2 separate regions of the Homo sapiens genome follow, and region 2 is linked to region 1. Evidence: fine-mapped expression QTL. A gene starts in region 1. The other region holds a variant in brackets. All regions are shown on one strand. Distances are between the middles of the regions. Region 1 holds the start of FHOD1 (formin homology 2 domain containing 1). Region 2 overlaps CTCF (CCCTC-binding factor).

Region 1 (5,362 bases):
AATCGGGGAGACCAGGAAGGACTGCATTGGGGATGAGGAACTTATATTCTTCACCGGAGCTCAGTAGTGTCCTCAGCTAAGGAGCAGGGAACACAGGGCAGAGCACCTGGTAGGGTTGGGTGGGGACACGGGTCCCATGAGAGGGAGATAGAAGGAGTGGTTCTGAGCCTCTTTCTTGCAGCTGACTTCCCAGGCTTGCCCCCAGCTGGGAAGAGGTGTGTCAAGGGGCTGGGCATGGTGGCTCAAGCCTTAATCCCAGCACTTTGGGAGGCTTAGGCAGGCAGATCACCTGAGGTCAGGAGTTTGAGACCAGGCTGGCCAACACGGAGAAACCCTGTCCCTACTAAAAATACAAAAATTACCTGAGTATGGTGGCGCACACCTGTAATCCCAGCTATTTGGAAGGCTGAGGCACGAGAATTGCTAGAACCCGGGAGGTGGAGGTTGCAGTGAGCCAAGATAGCCCCACTGTACTCCAGCCTGGGAGACAGAGCCAGAATCCGTCTTAAAAAAAAAAAAATCGGGGGGGTGGTGTCAGGGCTAGGTCCAATCCTTGAGTTGCAGGATGAGAGGAATACAATATATTCTCTAGTGCCCCACCCTTATTTCAGGATCCGGACTTTAGGAGCCTGGAAGCGGGAACCAGTCTTAGTTCAGCACTCCTGTCTTCCCAGCCCCCATCCTGAATGGGAGGTGGCCTCCAGCTGCACACGCTTCTTCCAGGCACACCTCAATTTGCCCCTCTGAATAGGGCAAGAGAAGCGGGGGCTGAGTCAAAACTGGCGGTGAGCAGTGTCCTGCATCCTTCCAGCCATGGCCTTGAAGCCGGGGTTCTGGCCTGGACACGTGCCACTCTCCAGGCCAATAGTCTCACCACCCCTCCCGCCAGCGCTCAGAGGCGGGGCTGGCCGCAGCGCGAGGAATGCGGGCTGGGGGCCCGGGGCACATTCCAGGGAAGACCCCAGGCCCAAGGGGCAAGTTTACGCAACTCGCCGCCCAGCTGAGGCTGGGAGCAGGGGAGGGCACCCACCCCGACTCTCTCTCCTCTTCTCCAGCACTGGAGGCGGCCGGGCTGGTGGGGAGCTTGTGGAGGTGGTAGTGCGCCTCCCAGAGTCCTGGCCCGGAAACAGCGCGCCGGAAAGGGCTGCCTGCGGGGGGCTGACGGCGGCGAGAGGGAGGGGAGAGGAGGTAGGCTGGCCATCTGGAAAAGGGCCTCTTTCCGCACTGTGCACAAGTCCGCTTCGGGGCGGCAGCAAAGTAGGGCAGGCCGGCTGTTTAAAATTAGTCCGGCCCTCCCTCTCACTTTCAGGCGCGGGCCGATGGGCGGCGAGTGTCCGGGGGTGGGGGCGGGAGCGGTGACTCAAAGGGCTTTTACACCCGTGCAGCCTCCTGCGCTCTGCGGATCCCGGGCCAGACCGCTTCGCGGGGACTCCCCTCACCCCGTGAAGTCTCTCCTCGGCCGGCACTCCCATACTCCCATTGACCTACAGGGTCAAGCCCCAATCCAGCTTCCTGACACCGCAGGAAACCTCTGCCACCTCTAGTAGTCCGCCTCGGGCCCGCCCCTCCTCGTGGTCCCGCCCCCACCTCACCTGAAGCAGGTGGAAGCTGGTCCCTCCCCAGCTCCGCCTCCAGGGTCCGCTACAGCCCAAGCGGCTACCGTCACTCTGACCAGGGAAGCCACCCTGGCAGACCGACGGCGAGTGGAACTCGAGCACCTCCCCAGGTGCGCCTAATTCGAAGGGCAGTCAGAATGGCGGAGCCAAGTTCCTGGCACCCCTCTTCAGTTTCCCCTCAACTTGAGAGGGGACTCCCCCGCAGGCGGGGCAGAGTGGACCCTGGGACCCCAGCCCAAGACTTTTCCGGAGAAGAACACTCGCTCCAGCCTCTTCCCGCGGAGCACCTCCCACCAGTTTTCATGGCGCCCACCCTGAACCCCCGATCGCCCCAACCTTTCTCCGGCCTCCCTCACCTTGAGCGGCGCTCCCAGCAGGCGGTGCACCGCGGGTATCTGCGCGCCCAAGGGCAGCGCCCCGTCCAGGCTGCAGGTGGGGGCCCGGCGCGGCTCCGGAAAGTTGGCACATGCGAAGGGGTCGGTGTCTTCCAGGTACTGCACCCTCACGGTCACCACTGATACCGGCTCTCCGTCCCCGCGGTCTTCCCCGCCCGCCATGGCTCTGCGGCCGGCTCACGCAGCGCGCCTCCGAGTCCCGGCCCCAGTGCAGCTTCTACTCAAAGCACACTGTAGCTCCGCGGTTCGGGCCCGGCCGGACCGGACGCGGCTGGAGGGGCGGGGCCAGACGGAGGCGGGGCCGAGGAAGGGGGTGGAGCCAAGATTAGTCCCCGAGTGCGCGCCAGGAGGTAACCACTGCCGGAGGCGGGGCCGCCGCTAGCCACTCACAGGGCCCAATGGGAATCCCGTTAGTTCACTGGCTAGGAGGGCGGGAAAAACCGAGCTCGCGCCCCACCTTCGAGAACGCGCAGAAGGCGGGGAGGCTTTCTTTGGTCTGGGGATAGTGAGGCTGCGTTCTCTTTGAGGGGTGTTAGGGCAGATGGGGCAGAAGTTTCTTTAGATAGTGGCCGGCCAGGTCTCTCTCAGTTGAGGGACAAGATAGCCCTCATTCCTTCCATTTGAGGGGTGAGTCCCTGTGGTTTCCTCATTTAGGGAAAGCAGTGAGAGGGGGTCCCTTCAATTTGGAGCAAGAAGTGAGAATAAATTCCACCCAGTTTGAAGGAAGAGGTGGGATCAGTTCCCTTTAGTTGTGGGAGGAAGAGGGAAGGATGCCCTTCAGTTTTCTGGGAAAAGATTGGGAGGAGTCAGTTTGAGGGGGCAGATAGAACACGTTCCCCTCAGTTTTGGAGAAAAAGTGGGATGGGTGCCCCTCAGCCTGAATGAAAAGTGGAGACGGTCCTCCTCTGTTTGGGGCGCTATGAGCCGAATGCCCCTCAGATTTGGAAAAAGTTGGGTGCATCTCGCCTAGTTTGAAGGGAATCAGTAGGCTGGGTTTTCCATAGGTTCCTGTCAGCTTCATCAAAGAGATGAGACAGTTCTCTGTAGTGTGACTGAAAGGGAGGGCCAGGTGCCCCTTGGTTTGGGAGATGAAGAACAGCCTCCCTCTTCGCCTGGCACGAGCTGGGCCAGTCTGGGCCTTAGGGTTTCTGGGACGTTGGGGGCAGCGTTGTCCGTCACTGCTTTGGGGAGCGTCCAGTGCGCGTGCGCAGCTCAGGTCCGGGTGGGGGCCGGCAGGGGGTCCTGGGCTTGGCAACGTGGGCGGAGGGCGGCCAAGCACGGTCCCCTGCGTTTTGCACCCGGCCGCGCCTTGGTCCCAGGGGGGTGCTGCTCGCCGCACAGCAGCGCTGGCCGAGGAGGAGCCGTGCCCCTCCCGTCCTGACCGCGCCCCCCGCAGACCCCCGCCCTTCCCGCTGCGGGCTGCCCCAGGGGGGCCGTGGCCGCGCACCGCTCTGGATCTGGTGGGGGCGGTTTTGGGGAGGTTTGGGGGCGCGGACTCGAAGGAGTAGGTTGTGGAACTTGGGGGAGAGCTGCACTGGGGAATTTCCGGAGCTGGGACTGATTTAGGGAGGAAAGAGGAGAGAGTCCCCGACTACGAGAGTCCGAGGCAGGGTCTCGGAGCCTGGACCTGGCTTGGGGGTATCGGAGCCGGGATTGGGGGGAGCGGGCCCCACGTGCCTGTGACGCGGGGGCGCCCGGTAGGTGGCGGCGGCGACGCGGGGCCGGCGGCCGTGCGGTGCCGGGAGGGCGGCTGGGCAGGCGGCAGGATGCTGCGCGCCGCCCTGTCCCTGCTCGCGCTGCCCCTGGCGGGGGCGGCCGAAGAGCCCACCCAGAAGCCAGAGTCCCCGGGCGAGCCTCCCCCAGGCTTAGAGCTCTTCCGCTGGCAGTGGCACGAGGTGGAGGCGCCCTACCTGGTGGCCCTGTGGATCCTGGTGGCCAGTCTGGCCAAAATCGGTGAGTGCGTGTGTGCGTGCGCCAGGCCGACCGCCAGCGGCGGACCCGCCCCCAACACCCCCACCTCCTCGGTCCTCAGATTGGGGCTGGCTTCTTGCACGGTGCTGGGACTTAGGTTTGGATTCCACAAATCCGGGCTCTCGCCCAGTTCCTGCATCGCTTCTTGTGGGTCCCAGGTCCCTGTCTTCTCCCCTGGGAGCTCTGAGGATTTGCCTTTCTGAAGGGCTGTCCCCCGCTCTCCCCAACTCCATCTGTAGGCTCCTTTGCCCTCTCCGCTCCCCTCTTCCCCTTGCAGTAGGCCCTCTTCAGTCTGGTCTCTCCCCCACCAATCCCTAGCCTCCCAGAAACCTCTGTCGCTGGTGAGGATGTGTGGGGACATTGAGGGGAGGGTGTTCTCCCAAGAACACAGGCATCCTGGTTCTGAAAAAGCAGCCTTCCCTGGAGACCATGTCCGAGTGTCCATTCCCTTGGGAAACTACACTGCCACTTTTCCTCCAGCTCTCCCCTGCTCCCCACTTAAAGCTGCTGCCTTCTTGTGCCTGTGTATGGGTACCCCCCCAACCCACGTTCAGGTCCACATTCTTCTCACTTCAGGGTATAAGAAACTTCCGTGTATCGGGGCCTTCCTGTGTGCTGTCTACCCTAGATGCTTTCATACATCCGACCTCTTCAGTCCTGACAGCATTGAAGGCTGTGCTTCAGACTTCTTTTTCCCTGAATAGAGCTGCTTTTCCTTGCATCTGCTCCTTCCTCCTCCCTTCTGAGCAGCCAGTGGTCCCTCCTCCCACCAGAGACCCTCCTCCTTCTCCCTGTTGTGCTGGCTCTGCTGTGGGGGTGACTAATTATAGCTGAGCGTTGCTACTCTCTCCCCATGGATGCTGGCACAGCCTGTACTCCAGTCTCACCAATACAGCCTTCATGGAGGAATCACCCAGAGCCTAGAATTTGCCCCTCTTCTCCCACATGGACACTGCTAGGGGGTGAGGGGGCTGGGCAGGAACAGAACTCTCCACTCTGCTGTGGCAGCCTGAGATTAATAATGGAAAGTGGAACTCAATATGCCTTCCGGGAGCGTGGTTCTGTGATGGGGCTTGGATCTCGGGGCTGGGGTTAATGCATGAAGAGATGAAGATGAAATAGGGTCCCCGAAGGAGAGAAGTGGGAGACCAAAGTAGGGACAAGTATGGAGAGATCTATGACCATGTTTACCTTAGAGGTCCAGCAGCAATGAGAGTAAGAGTAGAAAGAGCCTCAGGTTTGGAGCCAACGATTGGGTTTGCTAAGTCTGTGAGTTGCAGAAGAGTTCCTGTCTTAGGGTTTATAGCAAAAACTGTAGTTTTCCCCATAAATCATGGTTCTTTTTCTAGTTTGGATGACATTTCCTATGGAAGTAAGAGA
Region 2 (5,362 bases), 330 kb after region 1:
TGGCCGCTGTGTGAAAAATGGTGGGTAATGGAGCAAGAGGGGAAGCAGGGAAACTGTTTAGAAGGCCATTGCATTGGTCCATGCAAGATGTAATGCTGTCCTGACTTAAGGTGGGATAACTGGGATTGCTGTTTGTCTAGTTTGTTAAATTATAATGATTATTTTAAATTAATTTAGAGACAGACTCTCGCTCTGTTGCCCAGGCTAGAGTGCTGTGGTGTGATCATAGCTCACTATAACCTTGAACTCCTGGCCTTAAGTGATCATCTGGCCTCAAGCTCCTGAGTAGCTAGGAGTGTAGGTGCGTATCACCAGGCCCAGCTAATTTTTTTTGTAAAGATGGGGTCTTACTGTGTTGCCCAGGCTGGCCTTCAACTCCTGGCCTCAAGCAATCCCCTCCTCCCAGGCCATCCAAGGTGTTGGGATTACAGGTGTGAGCCACCATGCCCAGCTTAGTTTTTTAATTATTTATGTATTTTATTTTTATTTTATTTATTTATGTATTTATTTATTTATTTATTATTTTTGAGACGAAGTCTCGCTCTTGTCCACCAGGCTGGAGTGCAGTGGCTCAATCTCAGCTCACTGCAGCCTCTGCTTCCCGGGTTCAAGTGATTCTCCTGCCTCGGCCTCCAGAGTAGCTGGGATTACAGGCGTGCACCACCACACTCGGCTAATTTTGTACTTTTAGTAGAGGCACCTGCCCCAACGCCTGGCCAAATTTTTTTTTTTTTTTTTTTTTTTAGTAGAGACAGGGATTCACCATGTTGGCCAGGCTGGTCTAGAACTCCTGACCTCAGGTGATCCACCCACGTCGGCCTCCCAAAGTGCTGGGATTACAGGCGTGAGCCACCGCACCAGGATTTACTTATTTTTTATTTATTTATTTATTTTTGAGATGGAATCTCGCTCTTTCGCCCACGCGGGAGTGCAGTGGCGCTATCTTGGCTCACTGCAAGCTCCACCTCCCGGGTTCACGCCATTCTCCTGCCTCAGCCTCCCGAGAAGCTGGGACTACAGGCACCCGCCACCGCACCCAGCTAATTTTTTGTGTTTTTAGTAGAGACGGGGTTTCACCGTGTTAGCCAGGATGGTCTCGATCTGCTGACCTCCTGATCCACCTGCCTCGGCCTCCCAGAGTGCTGGGATTACAGGCGTGAGCCACTGCACCTGGCCCGGCCTTACTTATTTTTAATTAGGTTGGAATCCTATTCTGCATCCTCCTTTGTAACCTTGCTGCGTGTTGTGAACGTTTTTCCTGTTAGATGATCTTTTTCTTTTTTTTTTTTTTGAGACAGTCTCACTCCGTCTCCCGTGCTGGAGTGCAGTGGCATGATCTAGGCTCACTGCTACCTCTGCCTCCTGGGGTCAAGTGATTCTTGTGCCTTAGCCTCCCAAGTAGCTGGGATTACAGACATGCTCCACTAGGCCTGGCTTATTTTATTTTATTTTTATTTTATTTATCTTTTTCAGACAGAGTCTTCCTCTGTTGTCCAGTCTGGAGTGTGGTGGCACGATCTTGGCTCGCTACAACCTCCGCCTCCCAGGTTCAAGCGATTCTCCTTCGTTAGCCTCCGGAGTAGATGGGATTACAGTCGTGCACCACCACACCCGGCTAATCATGTACTTTTAGTAGAGATGAGGTTTTATCACGTTGGCCAGGCTGGTCTAGAACTCCTGACCTCAGGTGATCCACCCACCTCGGCCTCCCAAAGTGTTGGGATTACAGACGTGAGCCATAGCACACAGCGCTAATTTTTGTGTTTTTAGTGGAGACAGCGTTTTGTCATGTTGACTGGGCTGATGTTGATCCACCTGCCTCAGCGTCCGAAAGTGCTGGGGTTACAGGTGTGAGCCACCTCACACAGCCTCTGTTAGATATCTTTTGTTGGCCGGGTGCAGTGGCTCATGCCTGTAATCCCAGCACTTTGGGAGGCCGAGGCTGGCGGATCACGAGGTCAGGAGATGGAGACCATCCTGGCTAATACGGTGAAACCCCGTCTCTACTAAAACAAAAAATTAGCTGGGTGTGGTGGTGGGCACCTGTAGTCCCAGCTACTGGGGAGGCTGAGGCAGGAGAATGGCATGAACGGAGCTTGCAGTGAGCCGAGATCGTGCCACTGCACTCCAGCCTGGGCCACAGAGCAAGACTCCGTCTCAAAAAAAAAAAAAAAAATCTTCTGTTACTTCAAATTAGTAGGAACTTTGTTGTTGGATGTTAAGTGGCATGTGTGCATGCTTTAGTTTTCTGAACTGTTCCTTTGGGCATAGCAGTCCTTGTTTGCCCTGACTTTTTGCCTCTAGTATGTTGTTTCTACCTATTCCTCATTAATTGAATTATTTCTAAAATACGAGCATTGGCCAGGCAGGGTGGCTCATGCCTGTAATCCCAGTACTTTGTGAGGCTGAGGCGAACGGATCGCTTGAGTTCAGGAGTTTAAGACCAGCTTGGGCGACATGATGAAACTCGGTCTCTACTAAAAATATAAAAATCAGCCGAATATGGTGGTGGGTGCCTGTAATCCCAGCTACTTGGGAGGCTCAGGCACAAGAATCACTTGAACCTGGGAGGCAGAGGTTGCAGTGAGCCGAGATCGCGCCACTGCACTCCATCCTGGGCAACAGAGTGAGACTCTGTGTCAAAAAAATAAATTAAATAAAATATGAACATTGACTCTGAGAGCCAAGTTTATTGTAAATTTGAGTGCATAGACTTTGAGATTTTTTTTTTAATCAAACCTTTTTTGGTCCTGTTCTTGTTTTCTAAGTGGTAGATATTTGCTGGTTTAATGACTTACAGATAGGGTGACATAGAGGTCTGTCTTAGTTAACAGCTATGTAGATTATCCTATCA[C/T]GTATATAGCTGTAAATACTCTACACATTTTTCACACACTGAACTTAAATCTCCAATTTCTTTTTTTTCTTATTTTTCTTTTTTTTTTTTTTTGAGACGGAGTTTTGCTCTGTTGCACAGGCTGGATGGAGTGCAGTGGTGCGATCTCGGCTCACTGCAACCTCCGCCTCCCAGGTTCAAGTGATTTTCCTGCCTCAACCTCCCAAGTAGCTGGGATTACAGGCACCAACTACCACGCCTGGCTAATTTTTTGTATTTTTAGTAGAGATGAGGTTTCACCATGTTGGCCATGCTGGTCTCTTAACTCCTGACCTCAAGTGATCCTCCAGCCTTGGCCTCTCAAAGTGCTAGGATTACAGGCATGAGCCATGGCGCCCAGCCTACTTCTTATTTTGAAAGAAGTAGATGATACACATTATCTTCCCCAATAAGGAAGGAGGAAATGAGTCCTAAAATGTCCTAGGTTGCTGAGGGTTTTTGAGGAAAAGAGTATATATCTAGCCAGGCGCGGTGGCTCACGCCTGTAATCCCAGCACCTTGGGAGGCTGAGGCAGGTGGATCACCTGAGGTCAAGAGTTCAAGACCAGCCTGGCCAACATGGTGAAACCCTGTCTCTACTGAAAATACAAAACTTAGCCGGGTGTAGTGGGGCATGCCTATAATCTCAGCCACTCGGGAGGCCGAGGCAGGAGAATCACTTGAACCTGGAAGGTGGAGGTTGCCGTGAGCCAAGATTGCTCCATTGCACTCCAGCCTGGGCGACAGAGTGAGTTTTGGTCTCAAAAAAAAAAAAACAAAAGAGCATATATCTTGATGCTCTGTGTGGTGAGTAGTAAGCAAGAGTATACAGTGATTAATCCTTGACTTTCGGGCAGCTTTTCTAGTTTAAAACATATCCTAATGGAGGGAGAAAAGGGCATTCTGGTAAGTTGTATTTTATGTTGTAGCATTTTTGCCTGACACAGGGATTCTGCTTTATATTTCTTGGACTGCAGATGTAAATGCTGCTCAGTAGAGTGGTGTGCATTAGCGATTAGTGGTGTGCATAGCGAAAACTAGGTTTTGGAGACTTCTGTCTGATTTCTGGGTTACAGACAAGGGGACTGCAAAGCCAGAGAACCACTCTTTGCTTCATGCTTGTGTGCAGCCTCACTGTGTGCAGTCGTTTAAAAATGTCTGCCTTCAGCTGGGCGCAGTGGCTCATGCCTGTAATCCCAGCACTTTGGAGGCCGAAGTGGGTGGATCACCTGAGGTCAGGAGTTCGAGACTAGCTGGGCATGGTGGTGGGCACCTGTAATCCCAGCTACTCGGGAGACTGAAGCAGGAGAGTTGCTTCAACTTGGGAGGTGGAGGTTGCAGTGAGCTGAGATGGTGCCATTGCGCTCCAGCCTGGATGACGAACGGAACTCCTTCTCAAAAAAAAAAAGTCTTCTTTTTTTTTTTTTTTTTTTTTGAGATGGAGTCTCGCTCTGTCACCCAGGCTGGAGTGCAGTGGCACGATCTCGGCTCACCGCAACCTCTGCCCCCCAGGTTCAAGCGATTCTCCTGCCTCAGCCTCCCTAGTAGCTGGGATTACAGGCGTGGTGGAATTTTTGTACTTTTAGTAGAGACAGGGTTTCACCATCTTGGCCAGGCTGGTCTTGAACTCCTGACCTCATGATCCACCAGCCTTGGCCTCCCAAAGTGCTGGGATTACAGGCGTGAGCCACCGCATCTGGCCAGTCTTCTTTTTTTTTTTAAACTGTAAAGTGGTGATACTGGTTCCCTTCTTACCTATAAGTATTACTCAAATTGATAACCTAATAAAACTGTAGGATATTAAAGCCAAAAGAAAATTTAAGTCATCTGTCAATCCCTTCATTTTACAGATAAGAAAACTAAGACGCAAAGTGATTCACCTAAGGTCATGGATGTAGGACAAGTGCTTATGCCTTTTTTGTTCTTCCCTAGACTGGCTCTGAATAGTCTTTGGGTTTCCCAGAATTTCCTGCTGCATTTGATTCTGTAGCTAATTATTTTATACATTCATTTTTTAAATCTCTTTTGACAGAAAAACATGCATCAATGTGTATGTCTAGAAAAACAATGTAGAGGCTGTACATTAATTGCTCTTGGGTGTAGTATGCATGTCTTTGTTTTGTTTTGTTTTTTATTTTTTAGACAGAGTTTTGCTCTTACTGCCCAGTCTGGAGTGCAGTGGCACAATCTTGGCTCACTGCAACCTCCTCCTGCCTCCTGGGTTTAAGCAGTTCTCCTGCCTCAGCCTCCCAAGTAGCTGGGACTACAGGCATGCACCATCATGCCCGGCTAATTTTTTGTATTTAGTAGTGAACGGGGTTTCACCATGTTGGTCAGGCTCGTCTCAAACTCCTGACCTCATGTGATCCACCCACCTTGGCCTCCCAAAGTGCTGGGATTACAGGCGTGAGCCACCGTGCCCGTCTTACACATGTCTTCAGTGTGTATTTTTCAGACAACAAGAGCAGTAATGTTACCAACTTTAAAAAA

Evidence for each region. PIP is the estimated chance that this variant, and not a neighbour inherited with it, causes the effect. A credible set is the group of variants that fine-mapping cannot tell apart.
Region 2: its variant is the best candidate, but not a certain one, in a credible set for the expression of FHOD1 in whole blood (TOPMed, PIP 0.74).

Annotation. Positions count from the first base shown.
Region 1 is chr16:67,245,238-67,250,599 of GRCh38, forward strand. FHOD1 (formin homology 2 domain containing 1) reads right to left here and starts at 2,244. Exons shown (of 22, transcript NM_013241.3): 1 at 1,973-2,244. The coding sequence starts at 2,173. It overlaps SLC9A5 (solute carrier family 9 member A5), which reads left to right and starts at 3,742. Exons shown (of 16, transcript NM_004594.3): 1 at 3,742-3,964. The coding sequence starts at 3,778. RefSeq lists enhancers at 419-1,078, 3,479-3,980, 3,981-4,480 and silencers at 1,182-1,281, 2,182-2,551, 3,194-3,283, 3,304-3,393, 3,694-3,803.
Region 2 is chr16:67,580,052-67,585,413 of GRCh38, forward strand. The region is part of intron 2 of CTCF (CCCTC-binding factor); the gene reads left to right. Among named protein-coding and RNA genes, the nearest start is that of CTCF, 20 kb to the left of the region's middle. The variant C/T (reference allele first, on the strand shown) is at 2,855.